2 linked regions of the Homo sapiens genome follow. The protein of the gene in region 1 interacts with the protein of each later gene in a pairwise test. Each region holds a gene or a part of one and is shown in the gene's direction. Other genes may lie near its edges. The genes, in order: PSMG1 and PSMG2.

Region 1 (6,474 bases):
AATTGTTTTTTACAGCATTTCTGTCATCATTTGTTATGAATTCAGGAGTCTGGGAGGAAGTTGGTTGTGCTAAACTCTGGAATGAATGGTGTAGAACAACAGACACTACACATCTGTCCTCCACAGAGGCTTTTTGTGTGTTTTATCATCTAAAATCCAATCCCTCGGTAGGTGGGACTTGTATGTTTGAAAAGCAGTTATTTAAGTATCACTTACATGTTATTTACTGGTAGTATACTTTAGTATGGCAAATCTTTCAGTTGCTCTGTCAGTGTGCACTTTTTCTGATACTAATCACCAGTAGTGGTTTGACTGTTAAATTTTAAAGAGAAATAAGTAGGTCAATAGTGGAGCCAGGAAAATAAGTATTACCTAAGTGTTGTCATTCACATGTTACATATATGGTGATAGTTTGTGGTGTGTATAAAACTTACTTGACAAAAAGCGTGGAACTTGACTTTTCAGGTTTTTCTCTGTCAGTGCAGTTGCTATGTTGCAGAAGATCAACAGTATCAGTGGCTGGAAAAGGTAAGAGAGAAATGAAAACCTGTGAATGGTTAGTCTACAGGAGTTTTCATTTTTTAAGGGTTCGATGTCTTTTAACTTAAACTTATGCAGTCAGATATTTATTTCTTTAAAATATTGTGGGAATTTCTTTTGGAATATAAAGAATAAAAGAACTTGCTTATTTAACGTGACCAACCAGTTGTGTTTTATACTTCTGTGTCCTCCCGTCCTCAATGCTGAGGTACAGAAGTATAAAACACAGTTGGTCCTCAGCATTGAGGATGGTAGGTCACAGAAGTATAAAACACAATTGGATTCCTCCCGCCCATCTTTCTTTGTTTACATCACTTTAGATCTTATTAAAAGGTAAAAGGGTTCTTAGAAATCTATCAAATCCAGACTCTTCTACTTATAGAAGAGGACATTTAGAACCACAGTGATTGAAGCTTACCTATAAGTGTAGTAATTCCAAAAATGAATTTCATGAGAGTTATTTTTAAGGTGTCAGTGGTAGGTGGGAGAGGGAATGAATGTCAGGTGTGTACCTGTGACTTTTTTTCTCTGGACGGCAGACCTGTAGTCGCTATTCTGGCACTCTGACTTCATTTACTCCACATCGCAGGCCCCTTAAGTAGGTAGTGCTGGCATTACGTGTTCATCTATTCTTGTGTTGCTATAAAGAATACCTGAGGCTGGGTAATTTATAAAGAACAGAGGTTTAAGTGATTGACAGTTCTGCAGGCTGTATAGGAAGCATGGTGCTGGCATCTGCTTGGCTTCTGCTGAGGCCTCAGGAGCCTCCAATCATGGTGGAAGGTGAAGGGGGAGCAGGCAGATCACATGGCGAGAGCATGAGAGAGGGGAGGAGCCAGCCTCTTTTGAACTACCAGCTCTAGCATGAACTGAGCGAGAAGTGAGAAGTCACGTATCACCAACAGGGTGGTGCTAGGCCATTCATGAGGGATCTACCCCCATATCCAGTCACCTCCCACCAAGTCCGGCCTCCAACATTGGGAATCACATTTTAACATGAGATTTGGAGGGGACAGGCATCTAAACTATATCACCTTAGTTCACTAATGAGGAGAGTGACTTGGAAAAATTGCCCACCTAGAAAGCAGAACCAAGATCAAACCCAGGTTGTGACAGCAGGTGTGTTCTGTTTCTCCAAGGCACACTCCCACCCCTGCTAGGCATGCTATTATTGTCTGTGGTGTTAGGTGAATACCTAGAGGAATGTTTCCATTCTGTAACAAAATTATATGTTTTTTTTAATTTGAAATAAATTTTATGTTAGGTTTTTGGCTCTTGTCCAAGGAAGAACATGCAGATAACTATTCTCACATGTCGACATGTTACCGATTATAAAACCTCAGAATCCACCGGCAGCCTTCCTTCTCCTTTCCTGAGAGCCCTAAAAACACAGAATTTCAAAGACTCGGCGTGTTGTCCATTGCTAGAACAACCGAATATAGTACACGACCTTCCTGCAGCAGGTGGTATTAAAATTTGTAACATTTACATTCTATCTTATTGCTTTATTGATACTACTTTTCACCATTAGAGGTCTTTTTGAGGTAGTTTATTAATGATGATTGATACCAATATATTGCTGTTAGTCCTCAATATCTGTAGTTACAAGTGCAGTATATTTAGTTTGAGTTTTCAGATTTTCCAGACACAGTTATTTGAGGAGCTCATGTTTCTTAACTGTTGGGCTTCAGACATGCTGTGTTTCTTTTTGGTCTTTGATTATTCAGAATGCAAGCCAGTGTTAAATATAAATTATTGGTGCATCAAAAGTTGATAAAGTACATTTTAATTATCAAAACAGAAGTTTTGAATATTGAATCTTGATAGTTGCTTTAATTTTTTTATTACCATCACACACATCTGCCATCATATGACAAAGAGACTGCCATTTACTTTTCAGTGGGTAATATATTACATAATTGTTATTTATTATATGAACTGTATTAAAATAGGGTTTGGTTGGGGTTTCTTTTTGCTTTCAATGTTTACTAGAATGAGAAGTGGCTAAATATTTCACTTTATGCATTTTGTACTTATTTGTTATTTATATGCTTTATTATAGTCAGTAGAATTTTAATCTTTCAGCTACTTAAATCATCTCAGCTGTATTTTCAGGAAATATAAAATTAATATTTGCAAAAGAAGAGATTATTAGGAAAATAAATTGACTTTGAAAGAAAATCTTCATTATAATTGGTTCAAAATTGCAGTAAATACCTTGATTGAAAGAGGCAGCTGAGATAACTACTTTTAACAACAGCCTTTATTATTTAAAGGTGTTTAATTTAAAAGTAACATAATAGAAAACTTACATCGTTTTTTTTTCTTGTGTATTCATAGTTCTAAGCTACTGTCAAGTATGGAAAATCCCAGCAATTCTGTACTTGTGTTATACTGATGTGATGAAATTAGACCTAATCACAGTGGAAGCTTTTAAGCCTATACTTTCTACCAGAAGCTTGAAGGGTTTGGTTAAGGTAAGGTTTTAACTCATTTAAATTAATAGCTGCATTGTTATAATCAGCTTAGTAACAAACATAAATGTATACTGTCATTTTAAACCCTAAGCAATGCTTGGAGATCCATTCTTCTCAAAGCGAAGCTTTCTAGTCTGGCAGTTTGAATTTGATTGTCATCATCTCTTCTGTATACGTCTGTAACTTGACGAATGCTTTGTTCTTGTATGATAGATTAATGCAGTGCAATTAAATCCCAAATGTCTATGTGGACAGATGGTTTTACTGTTCAATAAGCTTCTATAACTACTTTGCAAGGTTTTTTAAAAAATTTTTATTTAATTTTTGAGACGGTTATTTTTGAGTATAGTGTGGATCAAATTATTATAATATTTATTTACCCAATTTTACAGAGAACTGTATATGTGAAGATGAGAGAATTACATAATGAACCTCTTCCTTACCCTTGGTTTATACCTTTGGTCTCATTTTCTAAAAAAATTGGAACACGTACATGAAAATGTTTGCCTGTAATCTCAGGTAGTTTAGGGATTCCATTGTTTTCTCTTAAGAGACTTTTTTGGAAGTCCACAGCCTCTGGTTTAAGCATGGTTTCTTTAAAGGAAAGAGGTTGTAACAACATTGTCCCTCAGCCCGGTTTTATTCTGGAATGGCCATTAGTTTTAAGACTTTTGTGGTAAGTTGTTGGAAGTAGCTCATTTCCCAGGTCTCATAAATTAGTTTGTTACTAGATTGTCAGCTCCTTGTGGTAATGGACCACGATTTTTAATTTTGGTATCCCAAGTTTACCACATACCTGGCATGTTGAATAAAGCCATCAATAACCATTTGTTGAAGAGTACAGCTGTAAAACTCTGATTTAGTATACTGCAAGCTTATCTTGCAAATTAGCTAGAATCCAGGGTAATCTTTCTGACACATGGAGTTAATTTATTTTTAGCATCTCTTTCAAAGTATATGCTGATCGTCTTGTTTGTTTAAATAGCCAATTGCCTCATCCCACTTAACTCAGAGATGAGTTCCCATGGGCAGGGGCTGGGCTGTTTTGTTTACTGCTGTAGGACTGTGTGTAGCACACAGGTGTGTCATAAACGCTTGGACTTGTTCAGAGACTTGGAAATCATCTGTCATATGGGGCTTAAGGAAACTCAGCTTTTATGAATATACTTTCAAGGGGAAATTTAACTCAGCATTTTCATTTTTGCTTTGGAGATAATGATTAGCAGGAGGGTAAGATGGTGGTTCTGCAGGGTGCTGTTTTCTTAATGACCAATTACATCAGCCTGAGTCAGTTCGTTGTTTCTGACCTTTTAAAAGTGGTATTTTCAATAAGGTGGAATTATTTTGAGTTCTTCCTGTGTGGCAGTTTAGTTGGATTTGAAAGATGGATGAATCTTGGGTAGAAGTGTGCAGAGGGAAGCAGTGTGAGCAGAGTGGGAAAGTGTGAGGAGAGCCGTGAGGAGTGTGGTGTTGGTGGAGAGGGGAGGAAGACATCTTGTGGGGAAGGTCGGGCGGGTTAGAGCATAGACTTCCTCCAGAGGCCAGGAGACCATCGGAGGCCAGGAGATCATCGGCGAGTGTGGCAGGGAAAGGGCCTGTTGAACTGACTTTCCCACTTGCCTTTTCGTTGAGAAGGAGAGTAAAGGCCACGCCTGTCCCATGGCTGTTTTTAAGTCTCGAGTGTGGAGATTGTTGGTCGTGGAGGGAGGGGTGTTGCCTCTGCCTGAATCCCTGGGGTCTCACTGTATTCACTTTTTTCTCTCCTTTCAGAATATTCCCCAAAGCACTGAGATACTAAAGAAATTGATGACAACAAATGAGATTCAGAGTAACATTTATACATGATCTTAAACATTGTTTTGTAGTGTATATTACTTGTCCATTCCTTTAAGGGGAGCAGCCTGCACTCTTTTGTAGATTACTTTTGGGGGATATATTTTGAGAATGATGAAACGGAATAAAATTGTAAAAAATTAATTGTAGTTTTAATTCCTTATTTATGGTGGTATTATTCACAACCAAAATAAGCCAAGCATTTTCCTTTTATCCACTAGGTGGGAGTATTGTTGTATTTGAATATTTTAAGGTACTATAGTTAAATTTTTATCTTATTTATTTATTTATTTATTTTTTGAGGCTGGGTCTTGCTCTGTTGCCCAGGCTGAAGTGCAGTGTGCTATCATGGTTCACTGCATCCTCGACCTCCTGGGCTCAAGCATTTCCCCCGCCTCGGCCTCCCAAAATGCTGGGATTACAGGTGTGAGCCACTGTGCCCAACTTTAGTTAAATTTTTCAAAGCTACAGATATCAGCAGATGGTATTCATGTGGCAAAGTGTAGTTAATTAGGTGTAACTATTCATTGACCTGTTGGTGATTCTTAATATGTGGAAAGTTTCTGGATATTTTAGGAGTCCTGCAGTTTTTTTTATCTTGTGGGTAAAAATTGATGACAAAGTAACAAAATTATATATTTACTAAAAATGAAACAGAAATGTGTATGTCCTCACTTTTTAGTAATATCTGACAGATAGCCTCTTCACCCAGACTTTCCCAGGGCTCTCTTTCAAGGCTGGCTCTGCGCGTGTCAGCAGTTCTCTTACAGTCATGTGTTATCATTAGGAGTGTGAATGGAATCATGAACCCGGAGTAGCCACACAACTTCACAGGACCACAAACTGAACTGCATTCATGAAAATAAATTTTAAAATGGTGGAGTTAAATGCTTCTTATCTCTTCTGCTTTCTTTTTCACCTTTTTAGTTATTGAATCATTTACATACTATAGATTTAGAGTACTTACCCATTTATATTTTCTAGTTCCAGTTCATTTACTGTTTTTGGTAATGATTAGAAGTATGGTAAGGAGATACTGTGTTCTAACTCCTTCTTGAGTAAACTTGGTTTCCTTTACATAATCAAGAATTGGAAGTCTTGTGCATAGTATGCTTATGAATATATCCCGAAGGCAGAAATCTAAGCATTTCCCTTGTTGCAAAAAAAGTTTTCATTCATTCAGAAATGTGCCTGCAGAGCCCTGAGGTAACATCATATGACCTGGAATCTGGTCCTAGCTGGAGCTAATCCTCTTCTTGTGCTGAGGGTCAGTGTGGTAAGTAAGGAAGAGTGATCTTGGAAAAGCAGACTATGTTCAATCCCAGGCCAGCCCTTACAGGCCAGGTGACTTTGGGCAGATGCCTTGAAGCTTCCTGAGCAACAGTTTTCTCAGCTGTAAACTACAGATAATACTGGTGACAGTACTCCCTGGGTGGTTATCTACTTCCCTTGGGGTCCAGGTTTTCATCTGCTTAATGAAGGAAATTCTCTGCTTGCTTTGCTGAATTGTGAGAATAATGATATAAGAATGCTTTTGAAGAACTGTAAGGTGGTATTTCCATGTTGACACACCTTTGTGTGCCCCACCTCAAAGATGCTGACGGTGATGTGGTAAGAAAGGAGT
Region 2 (6,490 bases), on another chromosome or scaffold:
CAGTTCTCAGTTGCCCAGGCTGGAGTGCAGTGGCGCAATCTCGAGTCACTGCAACCTCTGCCTCCTGGGTTCAAGCGGTTCTCCTGCCTCAGCCTCCCGAGTACTTGGGACTACAGGCGCATGCCACCACACCCGGCTAATTTTTTGTGTTTTTAGTAGAGACAGGATATTGGCCAGGCTGGTCTCGAACTCCTGACCTCAGGTGATTTGCCTGCCTGGGCCTCCCAAAGTGCTGGGATTACAGGCATGAGCCACCACGCCCGGCCCCAAGATGTAGCATTTAGATCATTTATTTTTTATTTTTTATTCTTTTGGGGATGGAGTCTCACTCTGTCACCCAGGCTGGAGTGCAGTGGCACAGTCTTGGCTCACTGTAACTGTTTTAGATGATGTAGATCATAACTTTTATCACTTAGACACCTATAAAACCAGGATGAAAAAATACCAACAAGCCAAGAGTTACCTTTCAAAATGAGCTAATTTCCAGGACTTTCACAAAAGACATTACAGGCTTCATGGCAGAAGGGAGGAAAGCTGTGGGAAATTTTTGCAATGGGCTTGCCTAAGTGTTTCTGTCTTTTTATATTGTCTCCTAAGTAAGTAAGTAAGTAGCAAATCAGAGCAATATTTTTTACTTAAGTCTGCTGAAACTTGTGTTTTGCCTGTGCAGCAGAATATATGGAGACCAAGAGAATTTTAGCTAAAGAACCGATGTTTGCTTTAGAGTTTTTAAAAAGTTAACTATATGATTATTTCTAGTACTCCCTTCCGGTACCTACTTACACCTTCCATGCAAAAAAGTGTTCAAAATAAAATAAAGAGCCTTAACTGGGAAGAAATGGAAAAAAGCCGGTGCATTCCTGAAATAGATGATTCCGAGTTTTGTATCCGCATTCCGGGAGGAGGTATCACAAAAACACTCTATGATGAAAGGTGAGTTTGTTTGCCTGTTCATTTGTTTCCCACTTTACTTAAAAATGAAATTAATGCAGTGAGCTGAGATCGTGCCACTGCACTCTAGCCTGGGTGACAGAGCAAGACTCTGTCTCAAACAAAAAACAACAACAAAAAAAACAAAATTAAGTCAGAGAATGTATTGGATTACTTACTGAAACTTTGAGAATATATTGCTAGGCCGGGCACGGTGGCTCACACTTGTAATCCTAGCGCTTTGGAAGGCCGAGGCAGGCGGATCACGAGGTCAGATCAATCAAGACCAGGAGATCGAGACCATCCTGGCTAATATGGTAAAAACCTGTATCTACTAAAAATACAAAAAATTAGCTGGGCGTGATGGTGGGCACCTGTAGTCCCAGCTACTCGGGAGGCCGAGGCAGGAGAATGGTGTGAACCCGAGAGGCGGAGTTTGCAGTGAGCCGAGATCGCGCCACTGCACTCCAGCCTGGGAGACAGCAAGACTCCGTCTCAAAAAGAAAAAAAGAAAATATATTTACAAAACTGGTACTATTGTAGAGCTCTTGCATTTAGGGGAAAGATTTAAACTTGGTTATAGAAGAACTGGTTTCTCAAAAGCCATATTTAATGCTTTTATTTTGTGTGACTTTTTAGGGATTCTAATACTTATTCTTTGCAACCTCTACACGCGCACTTTTTTTTAATTGTGGTAAAATATACATCGTGCAAAATTTACATTTATCACACATTTTAACTATATTTAAGCGTACAATCAAGTGCCATTAATTCACAGCATCTGCATCCATCAGCACTGTCTACTTCTAGAACTTTGTCGTCATACTAAATTAAAAAATCTGTACCCATAAATAATAACTCCCAACTTTATTTCTGTAAAATTGGTGTTGATGTTCCCATTTTCATTTCTTATTTTAATAATTTGAGTCTTTTCTTTTTTTTCCTAGTCAAGCTAGCTAAAGATTTGTCAGTTTTGTTTTTCTTTGAAGAACCAGTTTTGATTTTGCTGATTATTGTTTTTCTATTCTCTATTATTCTATTATTCTCTATTATTTCTCTCTTACCTAATCTTTATTTTTTTCCGCTAGCTTTGGATTTGATTTGCTTTTTTTTCTCTTTTCCAAGGTGTAAACTTAGGTTATTAATTTAAAAGTTTTTTTCTTTTTTACTGAATGTGTTTACAGCTGTAAATTTTCCTCTTAGTGCTGTTTTCACTGCATGCCCTGGGATTTGACATGTCGTGTTTTCATTTTCACTCATCTCAGTATTTTCTCATTTCCCTTGTGTTTTTGTTCCGTGTTCCTCTCTTGTCCCCCTTGCAAACACCTACCTCCTTTCTAAGAGTCAACTTACCCTTCACCTCCTGTCTGCAATCTTGCCTTTTCCTGTCTTCTAGACAAGGAAGTTGCGTCTGCACTCCCACTGCACTCCACCTCTTCTATACTTTGTTGCACTTACTTTACCAATCAATCCTCCTAAACTTTTGCTTCTGACCAAGACAGAGTAACTGATATCAGACTTGCCCTCCTGCCATAAAAATACTGGAACCTGACAATTTATGAAACAACTGTTTTCCAGACATTGGACTACAGGCAGCACATAGCTGTCATCCCTAAGAGAAGGCAAATTTTAAGTCTACAGTTGCCTGGCTTTCTGCTTGAGATACTTTCTGGACTGCAGCACAGGGAGCGGAACCCAAGCAGAGCTGAGTGGAGGAAATCAGTTAAGACTACAGGGAGGCCGAGGCAACTGGAAATACAGGGCAGAGAATCCGAGGGCAGGGGTGCTGCTCATCAGAGTCCAGGGGTCTGTTTCCTTGGGTCTGTCTTCTTGGGTATAGGGTGAAACTATGAGGACAGGCAAAGAACAGCTTCTGGTTAGCTATAAGCTTGCCCACAAAGTTAGCGGTGATAAACAGAAAGTATTATAAAAGTTAGACCTACTCAGCATCAAACATTCAGGAAATGCGGATTTTACCCTGAAGAAACAATATTTAAAATACTCAGTTGTATCAACCAGAATAAAATAGTTCCAAATAAAAAAGTAATAATAATAGTCATCCTCTGCCTTTCTTTTTAGCAGAAGACCAGAGGGTAATATTGAAATGATTATCCCACACTGTGTGACAAACTAATAAGAGGCGCGATAAGCTGAAGAGCATACCCCTGCGCTTTCCAAGTTAGAGCCTTGAAAATGCAAGCACAGCCTCGGAGCCAGCCTTCTCCAGGCGAGAGCCTTGCCTGAGGCCATCACAGCAGACGCATTTAGGAACTGGAATTTTCTGAGCCATCAGAGCTCATAGTGGTTCCATACAAAGATTGAGAGCCCCTAAGGTGTTTGAGAACCAAGTACTGGGCTAGGGTGAGTGAGGCTAACAGTTTCTACTTTGTAGTTTTTAGAGACAGAAACTAAAGTTAGCCTGGTATCATCTGAGACTTCCGAATGTATATATCAGAGTCTCCTCGGTGCCTTTCCTTCCTTAGAACTCGGCTCACTTTTATTTCTGTAGCTCTCTTCTCTGTCAGTCTCGTGCTTTCAAGTTTTGGCATGGCATTTTTCTCATAGTTCTTGGTTTTAGGGTGTTAGGAGTAATTTTTGCATTTATTGGCAAGCAGGAAACTTTTTGCCTTGGTGTATCTCCATCTCATCACTAGCTTGAGGCGTTTATAGTATGATAGGAGACTATGTTTTGGAGTTAGAGAGACCTAACTAGATATAGTTAGATATAGAGACCTTACTAGATATAGAACTTTGGGCATGTTAACTATGTATTAAATCTTTTTTTCTTCATTTGCGACAGAGTCTTGCTCTGTCTCACGCAGTTCTCCTGCCTCAGCCTCCTGAGTACCTACAGGCACATGCCACCATGCCCAGCTAATTTTTATATTTTTAGTAGAGACGGGGTTTCACCATGTTGGCCAGGCTGGTCTCGAACTCCTGACCTCAAATGATTTGCCCACCTCGGCCTCCCAAAGTGCTGGGATTACAGGCTTGAGCCAGCGCGCCCAGCCTGTATTCAATCTCTTTAAACCTGTTACCTCATAAAAGTAGCTAATACTTCTTTCATATTTACTGTGTGGTCACTGTTTTAAGCATTTTGCCTCCACTACCTCCTTTCAGCCTCACAACAACCTGTGAAGTAGGTTCCATTATCATCCCCCTTTTATAGATGAGGAACACCCCTGGTTAAGTAACTTGCCCAACATATCTGGTAAGTTGAAGAGCTAGAATCTGAATCCTGGTGTCTGTCTTTGTTCCCGTTATTCCAAACTGATTCACTTATAAAATGGAGCTAATTATAGCTTCTTCAGGATTATTACAGGGATTGTCATAAAATTTGCAGATAATGCTTAACACATAATAACCACTCAGCGTTTTCGGAAGAAGTAGGAACTTTTATTTCCTTTAATGATTCCATTCTCTTCCACAGTTTCCCTCACTGCTTTAGATAGTAACTAGGTGTTATTTTCTTTCAGTCTCTGCTGTGGTGCTTCTGAAAATTACTGTCTTCTGAAGTAGGTTTGGGGAGTAGGTCAGAACATACCTTATCTGCTGTAGCCAAGGACAGAAAGGCTGGTTTTTCATGCAGCCATGGGGTGAGGCATGATTGTGCGTGTTCCCCAGTGGGTGTTACAGGGGCCTGCTCTCACAAGTAGAAAACTCTGTGTGGGGCGAAGGGAGATGATAAGTGATCTTATGGTGTGGCGTCTTTTCCTTTCCTAAACCAGGTAGGTTATCGTAGCTGTAAAAACAGACACACTAGAGTCAGCTCTTGTACCCTATGAAAGAATACTGATTCTTATTTTTATTTCTTGTAGCTGTTCTAAAGAAATCCAAATGGCAGTTCTGCTGAAATTTGTTTCAGAAGGGGACAACATCCCAGATGCATTAGGTCTTGTTGAGTATCTTAATGAGTGGCTTCAGATACTCAAACCACTTGTAAGTTCTATTATAGCTTAAGCCTCTTCTTTGTCTGGTTGTATTCATTAACTCGCACTTTATATACTACCTAAGTAGACCAAGTAAGTGAACGTTTGTATTAAATATAGACATATCTTTACATAAAATTTAGTTTAAGCTGAACTTTTGAAAATTAGAGGACAGTTAACCAACCTATTATTTACAGTTTTTTCATTAAAGCTGACTTTCCAAAAAGGAAAATCCTTAGTTCTTCATTGTACTTACTATTCATGTTAGATTAATTATGCCAGACATAGTCTTGCAATAATAAACAAGCCTTCTGTGGAATTCAGGAATTTTTTTAGGGAAGTAAAAAGTATTGCTATGTGAGCAATACTGTAGCTATTGAATATGTATTACAGTTGATATTTTTCTCTATTATGAAATGAGAGCATTACACCCAGGGAAGTGAGTTAGCCTTTAGGCATAACAGAACACTGAGCATAAGGCTGCTTTCTAAGATGGGTAACTAGCTTTTTAATTCATGCTTTTGCCAAGAACAAATTGATACAAATCACATAATGCTGATTTTTTTTTTAATCCCTATTCTTTTTGAATGTGATTTTCCCTAATAAACTTCATCTACAGCCTTTCTGGCATATCTTTATAATTTGGAACTTAAAGAAATTTATCTTCAGTTGACATGAAGACAAAGAAACTTTATTTTTCCTTAACAATAAAACCTGGCTATAAAAGTGCCAACCAAAAGGAACACAAAAGGAGAGTTTTATAATTCACTTTAAAAGGAGATTTGATGGTAAAGTTTAAAGATTAAAATATTTTGTTCTTCAATTACAGAGCGATGACCCCACAGTATCTGCCTCACGGTGGAAAATACCAAGTTCTTGGAGATTACTCTTTGGCAGTGGTCTTCCCCCTGCACTTTTCTGATCTAATTTCTGTTTTATACCTTATACCCAAAACACTTACTACCAACACAGCTGTTAAACATTCTATACAAAAAAATTGTATGATCTGGTATTAGGAAATTACTTTCACAGTAAATATCAAAGAAAAAAGATTAAGGGTCTCTTTGCCATGCTTTTCATCATATGCACCAAATGTAAATTTTGTACAATAAAATTTTATTTCCTAAGTAATTTTGTCTTAAATGTATTTTTTTTAATTTCAGACTCTCTATTAGCTTCCTAGTTTGTCTCTAATAAATCACCACAAACTTAGTGACTTAAAACACACCAGTTTAATTTTTTCATTAACTAATTAATTAATTTTCATTCTGTATTTTAAGTAAAATGAGACGAGGTCTTGCCATGTTGCCCAGGCTGGTCTCAAACTCCTGGGCTCAGGCAATCCTCCTGCCATGTCCTCCCAAAGTGCTGAGATTACAGGCATTACACCACTATGCCCAGCCACAAATTTGCTTTTAAATTCTGACTTCTGAGTTCTAGGAGTCAGAAATCCAACAGTGGGTCTGACGAGACTAAAATCAGGGTGATCGCAGGGCACTGCTCCTGAGGAAGGCCTTAGGGAGAATTTGTGTTCTGCTGTTTCCAGCTTCTAGAGGCTGCCATATTATTTGGCTCATGGGCCCTTCTATCTTCAAAGCCAGCAGCTTAGCATCTTCAAATCTCTCAGTTAT

What was found.
Region 2: the proteins of PSMG1 (region 1) and PSMG2 interact in binary tests that used the Homo sapiens proteins (3 or more experiments, as listed by UniProt).

What each region holds. Positions count from the first base shown.
Region 1 is NC_000021.9:39,173,978-39,180,451, reverse strand, and holds the end of PSMG1 (proteasome assembly chaperone 1), read left to right. Parts: intron 1-15; coding exon 16-167; intron 168-465; coding exon 466-528; intron 529-1,804; coding exon 1,805-2,003; intron 2,004-2,880; coding exon 2,881-3,017; intron 3,018-4,787; coding exon 4,788-4,862; 3' UTR 4,863-5,683; downstream 5,684-6,474. UniProt on the Homo sapiens protein: Chaperone protein which promotes assembly of the 20S proteasome as part of a heterodimer with PSMG2.
Region 2 is NC_000018.10:12,719,751-12,726,240, forward strand, and holds the end of PSMG2 (proteasome assembly chaperone 2), read left to right. Parts: intron 1-759; coding exon 760-933; intron 934-4,748; coding exon 4,749-4,869; intron 4,870-5,688; coding exon 5,689-5,781; 3' UTR 5,782-5,990; downstream 5,991-6,490. UniProt on the Homo sapiens protein: Chaperone protein which promotes assembly of the 20S proteasome as part of a heterodimer with PSMG1.